2 separate regions of the Homo sapiens genome follow, and region 2 is linked to region 1. A link means that fine-mapping ties the variant in region 1 to the plasma level of a protein whose gene starts in the linked region. Region 1 holds a variant in brackets. A gene starts in the other region. All regions are shown on their reverse strands.

Region 1 (11,628 bases):
AGGGGGCAGGCCCTGGTAGTGGTCCCGCTTCAGAATTCTTCATCCCAGGACTCAGCACTTACTGAGCACCTTGTGTTTGTTGCAAGGTCCTGGCATGGCCCTCTGGTGACTTGTTTACTTTGAACATTCTTTCCTTTTCTAACCCCCTCAGGGATGGGGGCAGGGAACAGCAGCCTGTTGGGTTTTTCCAGGCCTCTCCATGGCGTGGACCAGACTGGGGCAAAGACACTCTGCCCACTCGCTGGTGAACAGTCCTAGGCCGGTGCTGTGGGGACAGGACATGTTCGGGGAGGCGGGGCCCCATGAGCCACGGGATAGGATGGCCCTGGGGCTGCATGGACACTTGTTCCTAGGTTAGAGAGGAGCTGTCGCACTGCAGGACTTGACCGGTGTGCGGGACCCCAGCGACCTGGCCCTGCCCCAGTGTGTGAGCACTTTGGAGCAATAGGCAGGGGGCTCCTCCGGCTGTGTGTCCTTGGGAAGTTGCCACACCTCGCTGGGCCTTTTAGACATGGTCTTATAAAGAGAGAACAAAGGGTCTCTCCTGCCTTCAGGGAAGTGGGGAAAGCAAGTCAGGTAATAAACAGGTCAGTGGCTTGGAAGCGCCTTGGAAAGGAAGGGATACTGCTCCTCCCCCAACCCTGACCTTGCCCGGGCAATGCCCTCCACTCAGAGCAGTCTCTGCTCACTTCTGCGGGCGGCAGGATAGGCTGTGCCTCCTGAGATGGGTGCATCTCAAGCCCAGAGGAGATTGGGTTGGATTTGTTCCCGGATCACTGTCTTGGCTCTGGGCACCAGAGGGAGAGAGACACAGCCC[C/T]GCCCCACCAAGCCGCGGTTGGAGAGCAGCCCAGCCCAGACAGGGCAGGAGAGGCCAGGGCAAAGCAGGGGGTTCCCTGGGGGCTGGGAGCCCATCGTGGGGGGCGGGGCATGGTGGTCAGGGAAGGCTTTCTGTGGAGGTGGGGACATTGGCTCTGAGCCCTGGAGGGCAGGGAAGGTGGGTGAGCAGATCTGGCTCTCTGAGATGTGTGGAAGGGCATCTAGGCAGAGGGAACAGTGGGAGCAAAGGCTCAGAGGCTGGACCACAGAGCACATGAGGGCCAGGTAGGAGGTGGGGGGATGGGAAGCCAGGCCGATGGGAGGGGCCTTGCAGGCCTGATCACGGTCTGGTGTCCAGGGAGCTGTGGAAAGGCTATGAGCCAGTGTGAGGATGAGCACATTTCCCCTTGAGGGGTAGAAAACTTCGAGGGCCGCTCTGCTCACCCAGCCTGGGGGCCCAGGACCACCCAACACACCTGTTCCTCTTCCCAACCTCAAGACCTTGCTTCTCCGTTTCTTGGGCACATCATGTCAGCACTCTGTGCCTCAGTTTCTCATCTGTGAAATGGGTGTGGTCGCGGTGCCTGCCATAGAGAGTGGTGAGGACTCAGTAGCTGATGTATATGAAGTGCTTAGAGCCAGGCCAGCACTCAGCGCCCTCATCCTTCTGCCTGCCACGGAGACCCTCTCCCACTGGTGACCCCTGGCAGTGGTTTGGAGAGGGCAGCGCTTTGCCCAGCTCCCTCAGTTTCCTTTTCTGTAAAATGGAGAGTCTCAGTTTCCTTTTCTGTAAAATGGGGCACAACTGCTCACCTCCCAGGGTGGACAAGGCTCAGGGAGGAGCCACACGTGGAACTCCAACCTGGGTGGGCTCTGTTGGGCCACGGCCGTGGGAAGCTCTCAGGTCTCCCCTACCCCGTGTGCCCTGCGCCCCTGTGGCCCTTCATGTGAGGGCCCCCATCAGTGTCCAGGGATTGAGTCAGCTCACTTGTGGCTGTCAGCAGAAGGAATAGTAAACAACAATGTTAATGTGAAAATGGCCTGAATCTGTTATCCCCAGGGTGTCTCAAGGCAGGGAGGTGGTGGGGATGGGGTTAGGACACGGCCATCTGGTGCCAGCCACACCTTCCTGCCCCTCACAGCCCGCAGGTTGAAGGTTCCTGGGGCCACATCTGGGCCGAGAGGCATGGTCCTTGGAGGTAGGTAGCTGTGCCCTGTATACCTGCCGTCTGGGCCGTGCATGGCCTCAGCTGCCCAGGAGGAGGTTTGCTCGTTTCCTCATTTCCGCTTTCCTGGCAGATCCTGAGGCCGGCAGGGTCTGGGCCAAGTTCTAAAAGGCAACCCTAACATGGTCTCAGGGCCACTCGTGGCCAGTGCTGAGTCCGCGGGAAGTGGGTCTGCCTGGCCCAGCTGTGGTGGGAACCCCGCCTTCCAGCACTTCCTGCTGTCTTGCTGGGGTTTCCTGCCAGGAACACAGACATGGAGCTGGGAGACCCTCTCAGGGCCTGCTTCCTGGGCTGGCCGGTAGGAGACGGTGCAGGGCTCCAGTGCCAGGCCCTGCCTGTCTGTGTGGCATCTGGGGAATGGGCACAGCAGCTCATGCCCACACTGGTGGGTCAGACAAGGGATGCCGGAAGCCCCAGGCAGGTCCTAGCATATGGTGGGGTAGAAGAGGGGTGCCTGATTTTCAGGTCGCCCCACCATCTGCCAATGCCTGCTGAGTCCAAGGGTTAGGGCCAGTGAGCAGGACAGGCTGCGAGCAGCCAAGGTGTAGACTGGGACCCCCCAGGCACCCAGGGCAGGCACCTCGTCCCTGTTGTCCCCCTGGGTCCTGCTCAGCACAGGAGAACCTGTGCCCCAGGCTGTCCTTTCTTTGCTGTGTGACTGTTTTGTGAGCCTGTTCAGCTGCTTTTGAGTCAGTGGAGTTGGTCGGGGAGGCAGAGTCTTTCAAAACAGTGAGAGCCAGGCATCAAGGAAAACAGCCCTGCCACCCACTGCCATGCGCTCCACCAGCCACGGGGCATCTGAGACCACCCCATTCAGTCCCCTCCACATCCTTGTCTACCCATTTTACAAATGAGGAAACTGAGGCATAGAGTGGTCAGTGTTGAGGCAGGACTCGGGGGGTAAAGGAGGTGCTGTGGCAGCTTCCAGCCCTACTCCTCACAGGCCCCTGGAAAGGGCGACTGATATGCATCACCACATTTGTGGGCCCACAGCCCCGACCCTGTCTCCTCCCATCCAAGCCCTGGGTGAGCCAGAACACCCATTATGCTATGGCCAGAGCCAGGCCGGTGGATGCAGCAAGCCTGGTTCATATCCCACTTCTGTGCCAGCCCCTCCTGCCTGAGCTGAGGATGCTCACTGAAGTGGCCCTAGGACCGACCGTGTGGCCCAGCCCCAACATGTGCAGCCTGCAGTGGGGAGGCCGACCGTCCACAGAAGGTTGCATGAGGAGCCAGCCACGCCCCTACACAGAGCTGACCTCCTCACCAAGCCTCCCTCCTAGCTTTCAGAGGAAATATATCTGGCCTGGCCCCAGGCCCCGAGTGCTGCTGAGGTTCTGGGAATCTATTAACCAGGGTGTTTATTCCCTGCCCTGCCCAAGCCATGGGCACTGGTCTCAGCAGGGCTTAGCTCCTGGCAGCTCCTGCTGGCTGGTCAGGACCACAGGGCTCCCTCACCTGTGGTAGCTGGGTCCCCCGGCCACCCTCAGGCCCATCCCAAGATAGAGGCAAGTGCCCAGGACTGGGGGAGAGTGGGATCGTCCTCCCTGGGACCCTCCTGTGTGGTGGTCAGCTCAGGGCTCCAAGGCCCAGAGTACCAAGGTTAGGGACAGGGAAGCAGACTGTCCCTGCTGCCCTCCCCTCCACATGATGCTCCCAATGTGGCCTGCTGCCTGGGGTGGTTGCCAGCTATGCTGTATCCTGGGGCAGCCCTATGCTTTGGGACACACAGTCCTGGGAGATGGCTCTGGGAAAACCTCCTCTGAGCTGCAATCTGCTGGTCTGTAGAATGGGAGAGGAACACAGCCTCTCCCTTGGTAAGCAGGAGTTTCCCAGGTGCAACCCTAGATATACGGAGGGGGAGACTGAGGCCAACGGAGGGGGAGCTTGCGTCAGGGCCACGGGCTGGGCTGTGGTGAGCCAGGGCTTGACCTGCATGCAGAAGCTTCCCTAGCTGCAGGTTGGACAGGAAGCAGATGGCCGGATGGGCTGGAAGTGCCCTTCACCAGCAGGGGTGCATGGTCAGGGCATTTGCTGGCCACTCGGGGCTCAGAGGCCATCCTGGGGCATCTGCTCCACAGCCTCGTGGTACACATGGAAGACTGAGGCACAAAGTGGGGCTAGTTGTCCGGACACAGCTGGAGCCTGAAGCAGGGAGCCATTGAGAGTTCAGCCCCTAAGGGACAATGGCATCAGCTACCAGAGCTTCTGAGCCCCGGGGCCTGGGTTCAAATCCTAGCCAAGCCCTCACTTGCTATGTGGCTTTGGGTAAGGAACCGCCTTTGCTGGGCTTCAGTTTACCCACCTTAAGTGGGCATGAGGACAGCAGGGGCACAGGCTCCTCGTGGCTGGGGGTGCTGAGAGCTGAGGCTTGGGGAGCTGGAGGCTCTGCGCGGATGGTGCTTTTTAATGGATCTGAGTGTTCCTCGTGACTGCATGGCTGTGAAATATTTAAATGGTTCTGCAGAGCTCAGAAAAAAAGGGAATTCTTCCTCCTGCCCAGAGGCCAACACAGTTAGCCTGGGCTTGTGTGTCTGTTTATGTACGTGTGCATATGTATGTATGTGCATGTGTATTTGTGTGTGCGTATTGTGTGCACATGTGTGTCTCACGTCTATGTGTGTCTTTCTGGGGGATGTGTGTTTCTGTGCTTTTGTGACTAGGAACACGCACATATATGTGTAGATGCCCCCAGAAGGTGGAAATCCTCACGGGGTCTGCACTTGGCCTTCTCCCAGCACCAAGTCCTGGGATGGAGACCCGAATGAGCATAAGGGTGGCCTTGAAGGAAGGCACTTTGGCACTTGAGGTTTGTGAAACTTAGGAGCACATGCCCACTGTGGCCAGCAGCCCCTGGGACACTGCACCTTGCGGAGCACACGTGTGATGGGGTGTGGCCCACTGGGCAGCTTCGCAAGAGCAGAACTGGAGACGACCTCAGTGCCAGGCACAGGCCCTTGTGTCCGGGCTGTCCTCACCCAGACCCTGGGCAGCCTGGGAGGAAGCCCCTAAGTGGACAGTGGTGGGACAGGGACACACAGTCCTGGGAGGTGGCTCTGGGCAAACCTCCTCCAAGCTGCAATCTGCTGGTCTGTAGAATGGGAGAGGAACACAGCCTCTCACTTGGTGAGTGCCCTGGCTGTGCTGGGGCCTGGGGGAATCCCAGGGAGTGCAGCGTCAGGCCCAGGGTGGGAGAGGCAAAGTAGACACCCCATAGAGGCTTCGGGGTATGCATGGAGTGACCCGAGAGCACACCAGGGCCCCAGGGACAGCGCTGCTGGGTGGCCCAGGTAAAGGCGGCTGTCCCTGTGCGCACATGTGTCCACGTGAACTTGCTACTTAGAGAGCAGCTGATGCTGAAGGCAGGTTGTTGGAATTCCCAGGCCCAGGTGTAAGCAGCAGAGCCCACCAGTGTCCCCTGACGCCCACTCTCTTCCTCCTGGGCACATAATTTTAGATGAAACTGAAAAACACGCAGCATGAAAGCAAGGCCCCTGCCCTCTGCTGGTTCTGTATTGGCTGCCTCGTGTATTTTTCCAGCCTGCAGAAAGTCGAGGCCTGGATGGATACCATGTCCGCCCCTCCCTGTGGCCCTGCGGCACCCCGGCCTCCCGGCCTGCATCTTTCATGAGTCTGGAAACAGGATCTCCCAGAGAGGGCCCCAGGAGGTTGGCTGCCAGCAGTGGGTTCTCACAGCTGCCTCCAAGCAGGTGACCAGTCCTGGGAGGCTGTGGTCTAGGGCCTGGCAACTCAGGGGCGCCTGTGGACAAAGGGCCGGGCCAAGGGGCTGGCAGGTTTGTCCTGAGTGACTGAAGAGGGCCCCACCAGGGCAGCTTGAGAGGGGCAGACTCTTGCTCCAGAGAAAGAGGAAGTTTGGTACTTAGCTTGGAATGAAGGGCCAGCCCTAGAGAGGACCTTCCTGTGGCAGGAGAGAGGGCCATGTCCTGCCAGGGGAAGTCCTGGGAGGCTTCCTGGAAGCAGTGGCCTCTGTGTGGGGCCTTGGAGCTTGAGAGTGTCTGGCACCAGGGAAAGGCATTGGGGGCTTCGAGAGAACTGCAGGGGGCCCTGACCAGATAGGCCCCTAAGGCAAAGAGGATTCCATCAGAACTCGCATTCCCATTTTATTACTCTGGGAAGTAATGTGGAAGCTAAGCTCCACTGTATGTCGTATGCTGAGGCATCTGTTGAGCCTCTGCTGTGTCGGGGCCGGGCTCTGGGTGGCCCACCTCAGTGAAGTCTTGCTGCTAATGGCCGAATAGTTCTGCAAGGCCTGTGCTGAGGCCTGGAGGCGAGTGGCCTGTTGGGCCCCAAGGCTGGGAGGTTGGGAGGTGGCAGGGGCGATCTCTGCCCTTAGGTCCGGCCCAGGAGGACTTGCTTCTTGCCTGGGCCGGTGTGCACAGATCTGTCCGCCCACACGTCACTTCCTTTCCTGGCATCAGGAGCTCAGACTCTGAGGGGAGGGGGAGAGGAGGCCGGGGGCACAGACCGGTAGGGGCAGGCAGGGAGGAGCAGCCCCGCCTATGGCAGGAGTGGGAGGATCGGGCAATGCTTTCCAGTGGAAAATCAGAGTGCGTGTGCTAAGGTTGCTATGTCGTTTCCTTTCTCTCCAGGACCGTATTCCTAGGGGAGGTTTTATAAAGGCTGAGCACATGCTCGCAGCCTCTCCTTAGGGTAATAAGCACTTCTGTCTGAGCACTTACCAGGGGTGGGGGCAAGGGAAGCCCTCACCTGCAGGGCCCGGTGACCCCCAGAGCCCGACTCAGGCACAGCCCTTGCCCCCCTCCCCCACCCGCCTTGCTGACCATTCCCCTCCCTGCAGCCGGCCCGCTGGGGCTGGAGGCACGGGCCCATCAACGTGAACCATTACGCCAGCAAGAAGAGCGCAGCCGAGAGCATGCTGGACATCGCGCTGCTGATGGCCAACGCGTCCCAGCTGAAGGCCGTCGTGGAACAGGGCCCCAGCTTCGCCTTCTATGTGCCCCTGGTGGTCCTCATCTCCATCTCCCTTGTGCTGCAGATCGGCGTGGGGGTGCTGCTCATCTTCCTTGGTAGGTCCCCAGGTGGGGGCAGCCAGGCCACCTGCTCACCTTGCTGGCATCTGCTCGCATCGCCTGGGACAGGTGCCCACCACCTTGCACACTTGGCTCTCAAGGAGCTGCCGAGTTCCTGGCCCTCATCACCCAGACATGCAGTCCAGGAAGTGGCACCCCCCCTCCCCCCACCCTGCACTTTGGTTTTTGTTTTGTTTTGTTTTGTTTTTTGAAACAAGGTCCCCCTCTGTCACCCAGGCTGGAATGCAGTGGCGCAGTCTCGGCTCACTGCAAGCTGCATCTCCTGGGCTCAAGCGATCCTCCCACCTCAGCCCCCAAAGTAACTGGGATTACAGGCGCTCATCACCATGCCCGGCTAATTTTTGTATTTTTTGTAGAGATGAGGTTACGCCATGTTGCCCAGTCGAATTTTTGAGCTCAAGTGATCCAACAGCCTCAGTCTCCCAAAATACTGGGATTACAGGCATGAGTCACCACGCTCAGCCTTGTTTTGTTTTGTTTTGTTTTGTTTTTGAAACCGGGTCTTGCTGTGTCTTGATCACAGCTCACTGCAGTCTCAACCTCCCAGGCTCAAGCGAGCCTTCTGCCTCAGCCTCCCAGGTAGGCTGGACCACAGCTATATGCCATCATGCCAGCTAATTTTTTTATTTTTGGTAGACACGGGGTCTTGCTATGCTGCCCAGGCTGGTCTCAAACTCCTGGGCTCACGTGATCCTCCTGTCTCGGCCTCCCAAAGTGCTGGGATTACAGGTATGAACCACTGTGCCTGGCCCCACCCTGCACTTTGAAAGAGCACAGAGTGGGGTCAGGGCCTGGCCTGTGGGCATTAGGGCAGGTGTTTCACCGGGTTCTTGTTGACCCATGCCATGAGATGGCCTCAGTCATGCCAGTCCTACCTTCTGGGCCCAGGGTCCCCTTCATGGCTGCGTAACCTTGGGCAAGTGGCTGAACCTCCCGGGCCTCACTTATAAAACAGGCATCATAATAGAACTGCAGCTTGTGGCAGGAATCACTAGATTAAGGCACGCAAAGGGCTCAGTGCATTTGCCCAAACCTGGCCTTTGGTTGACGTCCATAGCTTCAATTCGTATAAGGAAAATATGGGGGCTACAGAAGGTGGGGTCATAGACCGTGGGGTTGCCCAAGCCAGGGGCGCTGTTGTCCATGTTTCAGCAAAACAGATGTATTTTTCTCTGGGCGACAAAACTCATCCTAAATGCGACTGAGAGCCCTGTAATGTCCCAGGACAGCTTGACCGCTGGGGTGGGTCCCCTTCCACTGTCCCAGGCTGGGGCGCTGCGTCTGGGCTGCCCTTGGCACCATCCACTCCTCTCTCGCCCACAGTCAAGTACGACCTTAACAACCCGGCCAAGCACGCCAAGCTGGACTTCCTCAACAACCTGGCCACGGGCCTGGTGTTCATCATCGTGGTAGTCAACATCTTCATCACGGCCTTCGGGGTCCAGAAGCCCTTGATGGACATGGCACCCCAGCAGTAGGACACCCAGGTGAGCTGGGAGATGGGGCGCGAGGCCTGCAGTCCTGGGGTTGCTCGCTGTTGGAGGCTCTTGCAGTGTGGTGAGTCCCTGGCCGGCCAGCCTTGGACACCTTCCTAGGCCATGGGCATCCTCGTCCACACCTACAAGGCCAATGCCTGGCCACTGCCTTGAGGCCAGCCCTGCCACTGGTGCTGGCCACCTGGGGTCCTGTGGTCACAGTGTTTAGATGGAATGTGTGTAGGAGCCACCATTTGAACATCCTGGAGAACTCACTTAAACGTAAGATTTCTATACATTCAGAATGTCTGTCCGATAAAAAAAAAAAGATTTCTGGGTCAGGCGCGGTGGCTCATGCCGGTAATCCCAGCACTTTGGGAGGCTGAGGCGGGCAGATCACTTGAGGTCAGGAGTTCGAGACCAGCCTCGCCAACAGGGTGAAACCCCGTCTCTACTAAAAATACAAAAAGTGGCCAGGCATGGTGGCACATCCCTGTAGTCCCAGCTACTCAGGAGGCTGAGGCAGGAGAATCGCTTGAACCCAGGAGGCAGAGGTTGCAGTGAGCTAAGATCGTACTACTGCACTCCAGCCTGAGCGACAGAGTGAGACTCTGTCTCAAAAAACACCCAAAACCCAAAGATTTCCGGCTTCTCTTGATAAGTCAGGGGCTCTGCACCCCTTATCAGCTCCACTTAGCAGGTGAAGCTTCCTCCCAGCCCTCGTCTGAGAAAAAGGGACCTTGGTATGACCGCCTGCCTGACATGCCCACCTCACTGTGCCACTCTGACCAGGACGGTGGGATTCAGGATCTTGTCACGTGGAGCCCTTGTGACTCTTCAAGTCTGCCCCTTGCCGGGCCTCGCAGAATCTGTTAGCTGCCTGCCTTAGGCTGGACCCTGGCTGTGTGCAGGATGCAGACTGAGGCTGTCTCTACAGGACGAGGCACCCAGTGTAGGAAGACTTCTCACACCACATACAGCCTCTCCCTGTGTCCTTGCTCAGAGAGGGTGAGCGTCTGCCCAGTGACACAGCCTGGGAGCAGGATCCACAGGAAGGCCTGGGATGCAGCCATGGCCAGGGCCACATGGTGCACACACTACAGTCCATGCAGCCAGGCCAGGGCCACACACCACAGTCCCCGCGACCTTAGGCCTAGGGGTCACCCCTCCGGTTTGTAGCAGAGGTGGAGGTGAGTTGCTAAGGGAGGGGTGGGCACTCCTGGCAGGTGGCCATCTCTCCACCAGTGGTGGCCCATGGCAGAGTAGACAGGAGCAGTGCTCTTGGGGCAGAGCGCCTGTGTGTCAAGGATATATAAAAATTTCCCCAGGCCAGGCACGGTGGCTCACACCTGTAATCCCAGCACTTTGGGTGGCTGAGGCAAGCGGATCACCTGAGGTCGGGAGCTTGAGACCAGCCTGACCAACATGGAGATACCGTGTCTCTGCTAAAAATACAAAATTAGCCAGGCGTGATGGCGCATGCCTGTAATCCCAGCTACTCAGGAGGGTGAGGCAGGAGAATCGCTTGAACCTGGAAGGTGGAGATTGCAGTGAACTGAGATCACGCCATTGCACTCCAGCCTGGGCAACAGTATGAGACTCCATCTCGGGAAAAAAAAAAAATTCCCCAAGAGGGCATAGTGAGGATGAGGTGGGGCGCTGGGGCCAGCAGCTGGGTTGGGAGCACCCTGCATCCACCTGGCCTCACCCCTCCCCACACGGGGGCCAACGAGTGACCGCTGCTCGTAGTGGCCCATGGCCTCTCAAGCTCCCCTACCACACCCAAGGCCATTCCCCCAGTGGGATCACGCCAGCCCCCAATGTCCCGGCCGTGGAGCCTGAAGTCACCCTCCTGAAAGGACCTGGATCTGGGCGGCCCCATGTGGGGTCCGAGTCACTGTCCAGATGCTGCCTCCAGTTTGTAGTTAAGTTGTCCTCTTCCAGAACACCTAGATGTCAGCTGCTCCCTGGCTTGGGCATGTGGCCAGGCCATTTATTAATCACCTGCTGTGTGTGCTGAATGCAGTCCCTAACTCTCCCAAGCATGAGTTATCTGCCTGCCGGGAAGAGGGTGCTGCGTCTGTGGGCCACGTGGGGACCCAGCAGTGGACCTTAAAGCTGTCCTCAGAGGCTCGGAGGCCAAAGCTGCTGTGTGTCCTGCGTGGAGCAGTCAGAGAGGTCTCAGGCTTCGTGGGTGGCTATGGTCACAGCTGCCCAACCCGAGCCCCCCATGCTGGGCCAGGCCTCTAAGTCCTGGCAGTAACCCAGCCATGCTATATTCATTCCATTTTCAGAGGGGAAACTGAGGCATGGAGTACTTTGACACCTCTCATGTCAGAATCAGGCTCTTCTCCTTCCTGAGTCCGGGTGTGCAAATGGCCCTGACACTCGGGGCTTGTCACAGCCTGGCTCAGAGCCTCTCCTCTCCCTCCTTCCAGGCTCAGAGCCTCTCCTCTCCCTCCTTCCAGGCTCAGAGCCTCTCCTCTCCCCCCTTCCCAGGCTCAGACCCTCTCCTCTTCCTCCTTCCAGGCTCAGACCCTCTCCTCTCCCTCCTTCCAGGCTCAGACCCTCTCCTCTCCCTCCTTCCAGGCTCAGACCCTCTCCTCTCCCTCCTTCCAGGCTCAGAGCCTCTCCTCTCCCTCCTTCCAGGCTCAGAGCCTCTCCTCTGTCTCCTTTCCAGGACCCTGGATGTTGCCTGCCCTGCAACTCAGCTGCCCGACCCCAGGAGTCGCCATACCTGTGAGGTGTCCACCTCCCTGCACATGGCACTACCCAGACTGCCAGAGCCCAGGCTGGCCTCATCTGCACCATGTCCCCGGACCAGCCCTTGCTCTGACTGCGGCCAAGCACCACGCAGGAGGCCACTCTTGTCTCTCAGCAGCTGTTCCCAGGAGGCAGCTCCCTCCTGGCACATGGGGGCTGGCCACAATAGCCCAGAGGGTCAGAACTGGACAGCTGCAGAGACCTGTGCCCAGAGAAGGGTCTCGACCCACTCAAGGACACACAGCAGGTCCGTGGATGGGCTGGATGAGTGACCAG
Region 2 (11,964 bases), not on the chromosome of region 1:
ACGCAGCTGGAGATCTGAGAACAGACAGACTGCCTTCTCAAGTGGGTCCCTGACCCCCGAGAAGCCTAACTGGGAGGCACCCCCCAGTAGGGGCAGACTGACACCTCACACGGCCAGGTACTCCTCTGAGACAAAACTTCCAGAGGAATGATCAGGCAGCAACATTTGCTGTTCACCAATATCCGCTGTTCTGCAGCCTCCACTGCTGATACCCAGGCAAACAGGGTCTGGAGTGGACCTCCAGCAAACTCCAACAGACCTGCAGCTGAGGGTCCTGACTGTTAGAAGGAAAACTAACAAACAGAAAGGACATCCACACCAAAACCCCATCTGTATGTCACCATCATCAAAGACCAAAGGTAGATAAAACCACAAAGATGGGGAAAAAACAGAGCAGAAAAACTGGAAACTCTAAAAATCAGAGTGCCTCTCCTCCTCCAAAGGAACGCAGCTCCTCACCAGCAATGGAACAAAGCTGGACGGAGAATGACTTTGACGAGTTGAGAGAAGAAGGCTTCAGACGATCAAACTACTCCAAGCTAAAGGAGGAAGTTCGAACCCATGGAAAAGAAGTTAAAAACCTTGAAGAAAAATTAGACAAATGGCTAACTAGAATAACCAATGCAGAGAAGTCCTTAAAGGACCTGATGGAGCTGAAAACCATGGCACGAGAACTACATGATGAATGCACAAGCCTAAGTAGCCAATTTGATCAACCGGAAGAAAGGGTATCAGTGATGGAAGATCAAATGAATGAAATGAAATGAGAAGGGAAGTTTAGAGTTAAAAGAATAAAAAGAAACAAACAAAGCCTCCAAGAAATATGGGACTATGTGAAAAGACCAAATCTACGTCTGATTGGTGTACCTGAAAGTGACAGGGAGAATGGAACCAAGTTGGAAAACACTCTGCAGGATATTATCCAGGAGAACTTCCCCACTCTAGCAAGGCAGGCCAACATTCAAATTCAGGAAATACAGGGAAAACCACAAAGATACTCCTCGAGAAGAGCAACTCCAAGACACATAATTGTCAGATTCACCAAAGTTGAAACGAAGGAAAAAATGTTAAGGGCAGCCAGAGAGAAAAGTCGGGTTACCCACAAAGGGAAGCCCATCAGACTAACAGCTGATCTCTCGGCAGGAACTCTACAAGCCAGAAGAAAGTGGGGGCCAATATTCAACATCCTTAAAGAAAAGAATTTTCAACCCAGAATTTCATATCCAGCCAAACTGCACTTTGTAAGTGAAGGGGAAATAAAATCCTTTACAGACAAGCAAATACTGAGAGATTTTGTCACCACCAGGCCTGCCCTACAAGAGCTGCTGAAGGAAGCACTAAACATGGAAAGGAATAACCAATACCAGCCACTGCAAAAACATGCCAAATTGTAAAGACCATCGAGGCTAGGAAGAAACTGCATCAGCTAATGAGCAAAATAACCAGCTAATATCATAGTGACAGGATCAAATTCACACATAATAATATTAACCTTAAATGTAAATGGGCTAAATGCTCCAATTAAAAGACACAGACTGGCAAATTGGATAAAGAGTCAAGACCCATCAGTGTGCTATATTCAGGAAACCCATCTCACGTCCAGAGACACACATAGGCTCAAAATAAAGGGATGGAGGAAGATCTAACAAGCAAATGGAAAACAAAAAAAGGCAGGGGTTGCAATCCTAGTCTCAGATAAAACAGACTTTAAACCAACAAAGATCAAAAGAGACAAAGAAGGCCATTACATAATGGTAAAGGGATCAATTCAACAAGAAGAGCTAAGTATCCTAAACATATATGCACCCAATACAGGAGCACCCAGATTCATAAAGCAAGTCCTTAGAGACCTACAAAGAGACTTAGACTCCCACACAATAATAATGGGAGAATTTAACACCCCACTGTCAACATTAGACAGATCAACGAGACAGAAAGTTAACAAGGATATCCAGGAATTGAACTCAGCTCTGCACCAAGTGGAACTAATAGACATCTACAGAACTCTTCATCCCAAATCAACAGAATATACATTCTTCTCAGCACCACAGTGCACTTATTCCAAAATTGACCACATAGTTGGAAGTAAAGCACTCCTCAGCAAACGTAAAAGAACAGAAATTATAACAAACTGTCTCTCGGACCACAGTGCAATCAAACTAGAACTCAGGATTAAGAAACTCACTCAAAACTGCTCAATTACATGGAAACTGAACAACCTGCTCCTGAATGACTACTGGGTACATAACGAAATGAAGGCAGAAATAAAGATGTTCTTTGAAAGCAACGAGAACAAAGACACAGCATACCAGAATCTCTGGAACACATTCAAAGCAGTGTGTAGAGGGAAATTAATAGCACTAAATGCCCACAAGAGAAAGCAGGAAAGATTTAAAATTGACACCCTAACATCACAATTAAAAGAACTAGAGAAGCAAGAGCAAACACATTCAAAAGCTAGCAGAAGGCAAGAAATAACTAAGATCAGAGCAGAACTGAAGGAAATAGAGACACAAAAAACCCTTCAAAAAATCAGTGAATCCAGGAGCTGGTTTTTTGAAAAGATCAACAAACTTGATAGACTGCTAGCAAGACTAATAAAGGAGAAAAGAGAGAAGAATCAAATAGATGCAATAAAAAATGATAAAGGGGTATCACCACCGATCCCACAGAAATACAAACTACCATCAGAGAATACTATAAACACCTCTATGCAAATAAACTAGAAAATCTAGAAGAAATGGATAAATTCCTCGGCACATACACCCTCCCAAGACTAAATCAGGAAGAAGTTGAATCTCTGAGTAGACCAATAACAGGCTCTGATATTGAGGCAATAATTAATAGCTTACCAACCAAAAAAAGTCCAGGACCAGATGGATTCACAGCCAAATTCTACCAGAGGTAAAAGGAGGAGCTGGTACCATTCCTTCTGAAACTATTCCCATCAATAGAAAAAGAGGGAATCCTCCCTAACTCATTTTATGAGGCCAGCATCATCCTGATACCAAAGCCTGGCAGAGACACAACAAAAAAAGAGAATTTCAGACCAATATCCCTGATGAACATAGATGCAAAAATCCTCAATAAAATACTGGCAAACTGAATCCAGCAGCACATCAAAAAGCTTATCCACCATGATCAAGTGGGCTTCATCCCTGGGATGCAAGGCTGGTTCAACATATGGAAATCAATAAGCATAATCCAGCATATAAACAGAACCAATGACAAAAACCATATGATTATCTCAATAGATGCAGAAAAGGCCTTTGACAAAATTCAACAACGCTTTATGCTAAAAACTCTCAATAAATTAGGTATTGATGGGATGTATCTCAAAACAATAAGAGCTATCTATGACAAACCCACAGCCAATATCATACTGAATGGGCAAAAACTGGAAGCATTCCCTTTGAAAACTGGCACAAGACAGGGATGCCCTCTCTCACCACTCCTATTCAACATAATGTTGGAAGTTCTGGCCAGGGCAATCAGGCAGGAGAAGGAAATAAAGGGTATTCAATTAGGAAAAGAGGAAGTCAAATTGTCCCTGTTTGCAGATGACATGATTGTATATCTAGAAAACCCCATCGTCTCAGCCCAAAATCTTCTTAAGCTGATAGGCAATTTCAGCAAAATCTCAGGATACAAAATCAATGTGCAAAAATCACAAGCATTCTTATACACCAATAGCAGACAGAGAGCCAAATCATGAGTGAACTCCCATTCACAATTGCTTCAAAGACAATAAAATACCTAGGAATCCAACTTATAAGGGATGTGAAGGACCTCTTCAAGGAGAACTACAAACCACTGCTCAATGAAATAAAAGAGGATACAAAGAAATGGAAGAACATTCCATGCTCATGGGTAGGAAGAATCAATATCGTGAAAATGGCCATACTGCCCAAGGTAATTTATAGATTCAGTGCCAACCCCATCAAGCTACCAATGACTTTCTTCACAGAATTGGAAAAAACTACTTTAAAGTTCATATGGAACCAAAAAAGAGCCCGCATTGCCAAGTCAATCCTAAGCCAAAAGAACAAAGCTGGAGGCATCATGCTACCTGACTTCAAACTATACTACAAGGCTACAGTAACCAAAACAGCATGGTACTGATACCAAAACAGAGATATAGACCAATGAAACAGATCAGAGCCCTCAGAAATAATGCCACATATCTACAACCATCTGATCTTTGACAAACCTGACAAAAACAAGAAATGGGGAAAGGATTCCCTATTTAATAAATGGTGCTGGGAAAACTGGCTAGCCATATGTAGAAAGCTGAAACTGGATCCCTTCCTTACACTTATACAAAAATTAATTCAAGATGGATTACAGACTTAAACATTAGACCTAAAACCATAAAAACCCTAGAAGAAAACCTAGGCAATACCATTCAGAACATAGGCATGGGCAAGGACTTCATGTCTAAAACACCAAAAGCAATGGCAACAAAAGCCAAAATTGACAAATGGGATCTAATTAAATTAAAGAGCTTCTGCACAGTGAAAGAAACTACTATCAGAGTGAACAGGCAACCTACAGAATGGGAGAAAATTTTTGCAATCTACACATCTGACAAAGGGCTAATATCCAGAATCTACAATGAACCCAAATAAATTTACAAGAAAAAAACAAACAACCCCATCAACAAGAAGGCGAAGGATATGAACAGACACTTCTCAAAAGAAGACATTTATGCAGCCAAAAAACACATGAAAAAATGCTCATCATCACTGGCCATCAGAGAAATGCAAATCAAAACCACAGTGAGATACCATCTCACACCAGTTAGAATGGCGATCATTAAAAAGCCAGGAAACAACAGGTGCTGGAGAGAATATGGAGAAATAGGAAAACTTTTACACTGTTGGTGGGACTGTAAACTAGTTCAACCATTGTGGAAGTCAGTGTGGCGATTCATCAGGGATCTAGAACTAGAAATACCGTTTGACCCAGCAATCCCATTACTGGGTATATACCCAAAGGATTATAAATCATGCTGCTATAAAGACACATGCACATGTATGTTTATTGCATCACTATTCACAATAGCAAAGACTTGGAACCAACCCAAATGTCCAACAATGATAGACTGGATTAAGAAAATGTGGCTCATATACACCATGGAATATTATGCAGCCATAAAAAATGATGAGTTAATGTCCTTTGTAGGGACATGGATGAAGCTGGAAACCATCATTCTCAGCAAACTATCTCAAGGACAAAAAACCAAACACCGCATGTTCTCACTCACAGGTGGGAATTGAAAAATGAGAACACATGGACACAGGAAGGTGAACATCACACACCGGGGCCTGTTGTGGGGTGGGGAGAGTGGGGAGGGATAGCATTTGGAGATACACCTAATGTTAAATGACGAGTTACTGGGTGCAGCAAACCAACATGGCACATGTATACATATGTAACTAACCTGCACGTTGTGCATGGGTACCCTAAAACTTAAAGTATAATAAAAAAAAAAGAGAGACATTTTAAAGCTGGGTGTCCGGAAGCGACATCACATGTCGGCAGGTTCCATGATGCCCCCTGAGCCGTAAAACCAGCAAGTTTTTATTAGCAATTTTCAAAGGAGAGGGAGTGTACGAATAGGGTGTGGGTCACAAAAATCACATGCTTCATAGGGCAATAAAAGATCACAAGGCAGAAGGTCAAGGCGAGATCACAAGGTCAGGGAGAAACTAGAATTACTAGTGAAGTTCCATGTCCCACTGTGCATGCATTGTCATTGATAAACATCTTAACAGGGTTCAAGAGCAGAGAACTGGTCTGACTAGAATTCGCCAGGCTGGAATTTCCTAATCCTAGCAAGCCTAGGGGCACTGCAGGAGGCCAGGGCATGTTTCATCCCTTATCTGCAACTGCATAAAGCAGACAACCCCCCCAGAGCAGCCATTTTAGAGGCCCCCCTGGGAATGCATTCTTTTCCCAGGGCTGTTAATTATCAATATTCCTTACCAGGGAAAGAATTCAGTGATATTTCTCTTACCCATTTTCGGTAATAAGAGAAATATGGCTCCGTCCTGCCTGGCTCCCAGGCAGTCAGACCTAATGGTTATCTCCCTTGTTCCCGAACATTGCTGTTATCCTGTTCTTTTTTCAAGGTGCCCAGATTTCATATTGTTCAAACACACATGCTTTACGATCAGTGTGTGCAGTTAATGCAATCATCACAGGGTCCGGAGGCAACATATATCCTCAGCTTACAAAGATGACAGGGTTAAGAGATTAAAGTGAAGATAGGCATAGGAAATTATAAGAGTAGTGATTGGGGAGGTGATAAATGTCCATGAAATCTTCCCAATTTATGTTCTTCTGTCACGGCTTCAGCAGGTCCCTCCGTTCGGGGTCCCTGACTTCCCACAACATCTTTCCCTTTCTTTTTATATAAATGTGCTATGGTGATGAAGGCTTGTTCATTCTCTCGATTTTGATGCAGGATTCTTTGACTGGTCTGGCACACTAAAGACAAGTCAATTAAACAGAGAAACCTAATTCCAAATTGCACTAGGCTGTCCCCCTGAAAAGCTGAGTCTTTTTCACTACCTGGCTAGAAGGCATATGAGAAACGGAAGCAGGAAATTCACAGAAGAAAAACTATACATGACTATGGAACATTTCAATGTAATTTTTAAAATTACATAGAAAACATAGGCATAGCTAGTTGTCCATGAGTTGCCTTGTCTAGCTTTTTGTAGTCATTGATTAATCCTCACTTTCAGATTTCACAAATCTCGACCCACTTTATTTTTATAGAATGAGATCATCTCTTGATAGAGGCCTTTGCAGTCTGATCACAACCTACAGTAAGAAATGCATTCTATATTATGACCCAGTACACATATTCCTGTACATCATTGAAAGGTTCAGAAAGCAATATTTTCATCATTAGGTGCAATGTCTCCTGTTTTATATTTTATTCTGTTCTATTGCATTTTTTAAAATGCTGGTCATGAGACCTGCAAAACCCATTCCATGACCCACCAATAGTCTGAGGCCAATGATTTGAGACTTTTGAGAGAAAAACAAACTTGGAGGACTGACACTGCCCAACTTAAAGACTTACTACAGCCAGGCGCAGTGGCTCACGCCTGTAATCCCAGCACTTCGGGAGGCCGAGGTAGGTGGATCATTTGAGGTAAGGAGTTCAAGACCAGCCTGGCAACATGGTGAAACCCCATCTCTACTAAAAATACAAAAATTAGCCAGGCGTGGTGGTACATGCCTGTAATCTCAGCTACTCGGGAGGCTGAGGCACAAAAATTGCTTGAACCTAGGAAGTGGAGGTTGCAGTGCACCGAGATAGCGCCACTGCACTCCAGCCTGGGCAACAGAGCGAGACTGTGTCTCAAATAAGTAAGTAAATTAATAAGTAAATGAATAAAAGACTTACTACAAAGCTACAGTAGTTAAGAAAGTGCTATTGGTAAAAGAATAGACAGATGAATGGAACAGAATAGAGAGCTCAGAAATAGACCCACACAAATATGGTGAAATGGTCTTTGACAAAGGAGTGAAGGCAATACAATGAAGAAAGGATAGGCTCTTTGACAAATGGTTGTGGAATAAATGGACGTCCACATGCAAAAAAAAAAAAAGAATCTAGATCTAGACCTTTACTCAAAATGGTTCATAGACTTAAAGGTAACATGCAAAACTATAAAACTCCTAGAGGATGACACAAGAGAAAATCTAGTTTAGTTTGATGATGACCTTTTAGATAAATCACCAGTTTCCTCCATTAAATACAATCTATGGAGGAAAAGGACTGATGAATTGGACTTCATTAAAATAAAAAACTTCTACGCTGGAAGAAAAGAAAACAGAATTGATATTCTCACCAGCTCCTAAACAAATTGGCTTTTCCAGGAAAACTCAGTTCCCCTGACACTCCTGTCTGTGGGCTTGGCCAGAGTGTGGGCATAGCAGTAGAGCTCCTCTCTCTTCACCCATGGCCTCAGCAAAGCCCCCAGTGCCCACTTTGCTCTGGCACACAGTGGTCTCAGCAGGAAGCCCCGTCTCTTCTGCTCCCAGGAGCCACACTCAGGTGCACTGTGAATCTCTTTCACAGTCACGTCTGCACCTGCAGTCTCCCTCCTGCAACATGCACACTGTTGCGACTGACTGCAGGCCACTCTGGCATCATGAGAGATGGCCGTTGCTGCTCCTGTGGAAGAGCAGACTCACCCTCTTCCAGGAACAGCCTTGGCTGCAACCCATGCTACCTTCCCCTGCCCTGGGGCATTACAAGGTCACACGAGATCAGCCTTTCTCAACCAGGGGCAATTTTGCCACCAGGAAACATGCAATGCCTGGAGACATTCTTGGTTGTCACAACTGGGGACTACTGGCACCTAATGAGTAAAAGCCGGATGCTGCTAAACATTCTATAATGCACAGGACAGCTCCCATCACAGAGAATTATACACCCTTAATGTAATAGTGCTGGGATGGTTAATGTTATGTGTCGACTGAAGTGGGCTAAGAGATGCCCAGAGGGCCAGTAAAGCAGGATTTCTGGTTGTGTTCATGAGGGTGTTTCTGGAAGAGATTGGCATTGGAATCTCCAGAAAGTAAACAAGATCCATCCTCACCAGTGTGGGCTGGTAACATCCAGTTTGTTGAGTGCCAGAATAGAACAAAAAGGTGGATGAAGGGCAAATTCTTTCTCTTCTTGAGCTGGGATATCCATCTTCTCCTGCTCTTGGGCCTTCAAACTCAGGATGAATTACACCACCAGCTTATCTAGTTCTCCGGCCTGTAGATGGAAGACTGTGGGACTTCCCAGCCTCCATAATCACATGAGCCAATTTCTACAATAAATCTCTTCTTATATTCCTATATCCATATCCTATTATTTCCAGTTTTCTGGAGAAACCTGACTGATAAAGTGCCATGGTTGGGAAATCCTGCCCTAGATTTCTTTCTTTGGTCCTCGAAGCCTCACCCCTATTCCCCATAAATCCCACACCTGCAAGAAGAAAGGAAATGTAAAAAGAGTCCCTTCTGGGAACGGATGCTGATTCCTATGTAGATTTCTCTATTGAGAGATAACTGTTGCTCAGTAGTTGGACACTACTAGTTCACTTTTTTGAGGATTTCAAAACTGAGGTCTCTCTTCTCTATGGATGTTTTTTTTCCAGTCCTATTGCTTCAAATATCATCTAAACACTTTCAACCCATAACTTTATTTCCTGTCTGGGCCTCTTTTTCTGAGCTGTACTGGACATCTCAAATCACACGATTTGTGGATATCTGAAATTTAATTCCCAAACTGAATCCTTGGTGTCCTTCACCTCCCCACACCCAATACTGGTCCACCCCAGTCTTCTTCCTCTCAGTCTATGACCGTCATCCCCTGCCCACTGGCTTCATCACTGGGTAGTCGTTCCATCCCCTTGACTCCTCCCCTTGTCCAGCAACCTCCTAACATGCACACACACACACGCACTTATGGGGAATATTAGCACGCTTCTTCATCTCAAGCCCCCCCTCCCTCCCCCAGCCCATCTCCTAGAATGGATTCACTTGAATTCACTCCTGGTTTGCAGGAAAGTGCAGAAATCCAAGGAATGTGGTGGGAATTGGTGGTCCAACTTAAAGGGTCTAACCCTTTCACCCTTATCTCCCTCTGATCCATTTTCTACCCCAGAGCCAGAGTGATCTTAAACCATAAGTAAGCTAAGGTTACTGCTTTCTAGAAACACTTCAATGCCTTCTATTACAGTTGGGGGGATACAAATTACGTAACGTGGCTTGCAAGACTCCCCCTCCCCTACTTTGAATGGTCCTTAGGAGTTGGCCTTCTGTCAGGGCCTGGGAGATGCCGAGCTTGATCCTCAGTAACTTTGCAGAGGCTGTTCCCTCTTTGGAGCCCTTCCCTCACTCTTCCCCTTACCAAGGACAATCACTTCTTCGGTTCTCAGCTCCTGTGAGACCCCAGGCGGGAGCATTTGGGTGTGCGTCATTGGAGGGCTCACTTGCCATTCTTTCTCTTTTCCCTCTTTCCTCCAATGGCTCCTGTGGAGGTTTTGAGACTCCTCAATGTCACTCTGCTTCTCTCTCCAGTTCCAGTCCTAACAATAGGAACCCTAGGTGCCCCGCCCCAGCCTGCTCCAGTCCCCTAGGATAGAGCAAGGAGAGCTCTTCCCTGCATCTAGCCTGTGACAAATGGCTCTAGTGACAGCCCTCTCTGCCTTGTTTCCAGTCCTTTAATGAGCTGCCCGCAGCCAGCCTCACTCTCACTCTGCTCTTCACACCCACTGAGCCCCACGCTTGGAGCTGCTGGGGGTCTGCCAGAAAGACCAGCTCCTAAGATCCCTGCAGGCTGTGCCTGCTCAACTTCTCAATGTGGCTTTCTCAGCCCTGCTTTGTGCTCTCATAAAATTCTATCGACTTTGGGGTTTTTTTATAAATTTGTCCAAATTCCACTCAGAGTATTGTTTCATGCATCTCAACTATGATTTTGATGGGTTTGGGGAAGGAAGGTGAGTTCCTGGGTTCTGCTGATATCTGAACCTGGAAATCTTACCCATATTGCTGAGTGCTGCACCGGGAAGTGCAGGCTTACTTTGGGGCTGCCTTCAGGGGCAGGAGGCTGTGTGCAATGCAGGCATCACCTGGTGCAGGGCTGGAACATATCAGATGACTTAATGGGCTCCAAACTTGAAATCAGGGCTGCTTAGTAAAAGATGGGATGTATGTAGAATTACATAAGAAAGATCCAAGCTTCCAGGATTTGGAATGAAACAGTCTCTTCAGAATGTGCTCTCAGGATTCCCAGAGGCGAGCTATTTCTCAAGATTTCCTTGACCTTTGTCACCATCAGGAATTAATGTTTAACTGGCACATGTGGCTGGAAATGCAAGAAGAGGGAAACGTGTGGCTTGGAGTTTCAAGAAGAGTGACTGTCTCAGTGCCGAGTGCCTCAGCAGCTTCTCCACATGCTCTTCAGTCCCCAAAGTTGGAGAATCCCATCAAGGAGAGTAGCCCTGTAAGGAATTCGAATTTCCAGCATGTAAGTCTCTGATTTTATACCTACTCAGATTGTAGTAGTGGAAAACAGCAACATGTACCTTGACTCTCTGGCCCCATGTTACTGAACATTTGCTTAAAGGTTAACTCACTTGAGGGAGCTTGTGTGGTGCTTTCTCTTCTGCTGCAGGCTGGCAGGGGTTTTTGTTCAGTGGGGGCTGTGCACTTGGTGGCTCTCCATGCACACACAGTCACTCCAGTGACACATGTTTGATAGGTGCTGGGAATGATTTCATGACTGGCTCAGTAGCAAATGCGGGCCAGATGTGATTCTATTTTTTCCATGCACCACCAGGGATGGTGTTGGGTATTTTATTCCCCCAGCCTCTGTTTCTTCTGTAAATGAGGATTTTCTTAGTATCTACCTTGTGAGGATTAAATCCCATGATTTTATGGAGGTGATTAGTAAATGTGAACTCTGCCCTTCCCTTTATAACATCTGAGGCTCCGTCAGGGCTCTCTCCTTTTGGTGTATGTTATAGTTTACTTAGAGGTCAATTTGGTGTCTACCTATGCAGTGTGATTTGAGGAGAATTAGAAGATCTTTCCCACCAACTTGCCATGCTGAGTACAATTCCCATCTGAAAACATATGCGGATAGGAATTTCTATTGGGAGAATTGTTCGGTTATCGACTTCAAGGAGTCGAAGTTCTCCTGGTTTTAAGTCTGTTGTCGGAAGTATATAAGAATCAAAGCTTAATCGATGGAAATCATTGCTCTCCATCATGCGTGAGTTAAAACCATTACTTCTGAGTGGTCAGTTTACATTGGGCTCTGTCTAGAAGGTTTGCCTTCTTCACCTCCAGTCACATCCCCATTTCACAAGTGAGCAAACAGCCAGAGGAGGGGAGGAGGATGGCATAAGATCTTGCAGCTGGCAGAGACGAAATGTGAATGTA

Direction of the effects. Positions count from the first base shown, and alleles are read on the strand shown. Strength reflects both the effect of a copy and how common the allele is.
With allele T in place of C in region 1, the plasma level of the protein whose gene starts at base 10,927 in region 2 is lower (weak association).

The links. A credible set is the group of variants that fine-mapping cannot tell apart. PIP is the chance, under the fine-mapping model, that this variant and not a neighbour inherited with it causes the effect. The UK Biobank Pharma Proteomics Project read protein levels with antibody pairs (Olink). The fine-mapping took linkage between variants from a reference panel, not from the people measured, so its PIPs are less certain.
Region 2: it holds the start of DDC, and the variant in region 1 is the best candidate, but not a certain one, in a credible set for the plasma level of the DDC protein (UK Biobank, PIP 0.56).

Annotation. Positions count from the first base shown.
Region 1 is chr9:93,121,872-93,133,499 of GRCh38, reverse strand. It overlaps NINJ1 (ninjurin 1), which reads left to right. Exons shown (of 4, transcript NM_004148.4): 2 at 6,862-7,090; 3 at 8,438-8,601; 4 at 11,270-11,628. The coding sequence ends at 8,592. LOC124902212 (a long non-coding RNA gene) reads right to left here and starts at 488. Exons shown (of 3, transcript XR_007061665.1): 1 at 1-488. RefSeq lists enhancers at 1-44, 1,526-2,123, 2,124-2,722, 5,349-5,408, 6,166-6,817 and a silencer at 8,422-8,586. The variant C/T (reference allele first, on the strand shown) is at 818.
Region 2 is chr7:50,564,368-50,576,331 of GRCh38, reverse strand. DDC (dopa decarboxylase) reads left to right here and starts at 10,927. Exons shown (of 15, transcript NM_001082971.2): 1 at 10,927-11,047. RefSeq lists an enhancer at 5,539-6,064.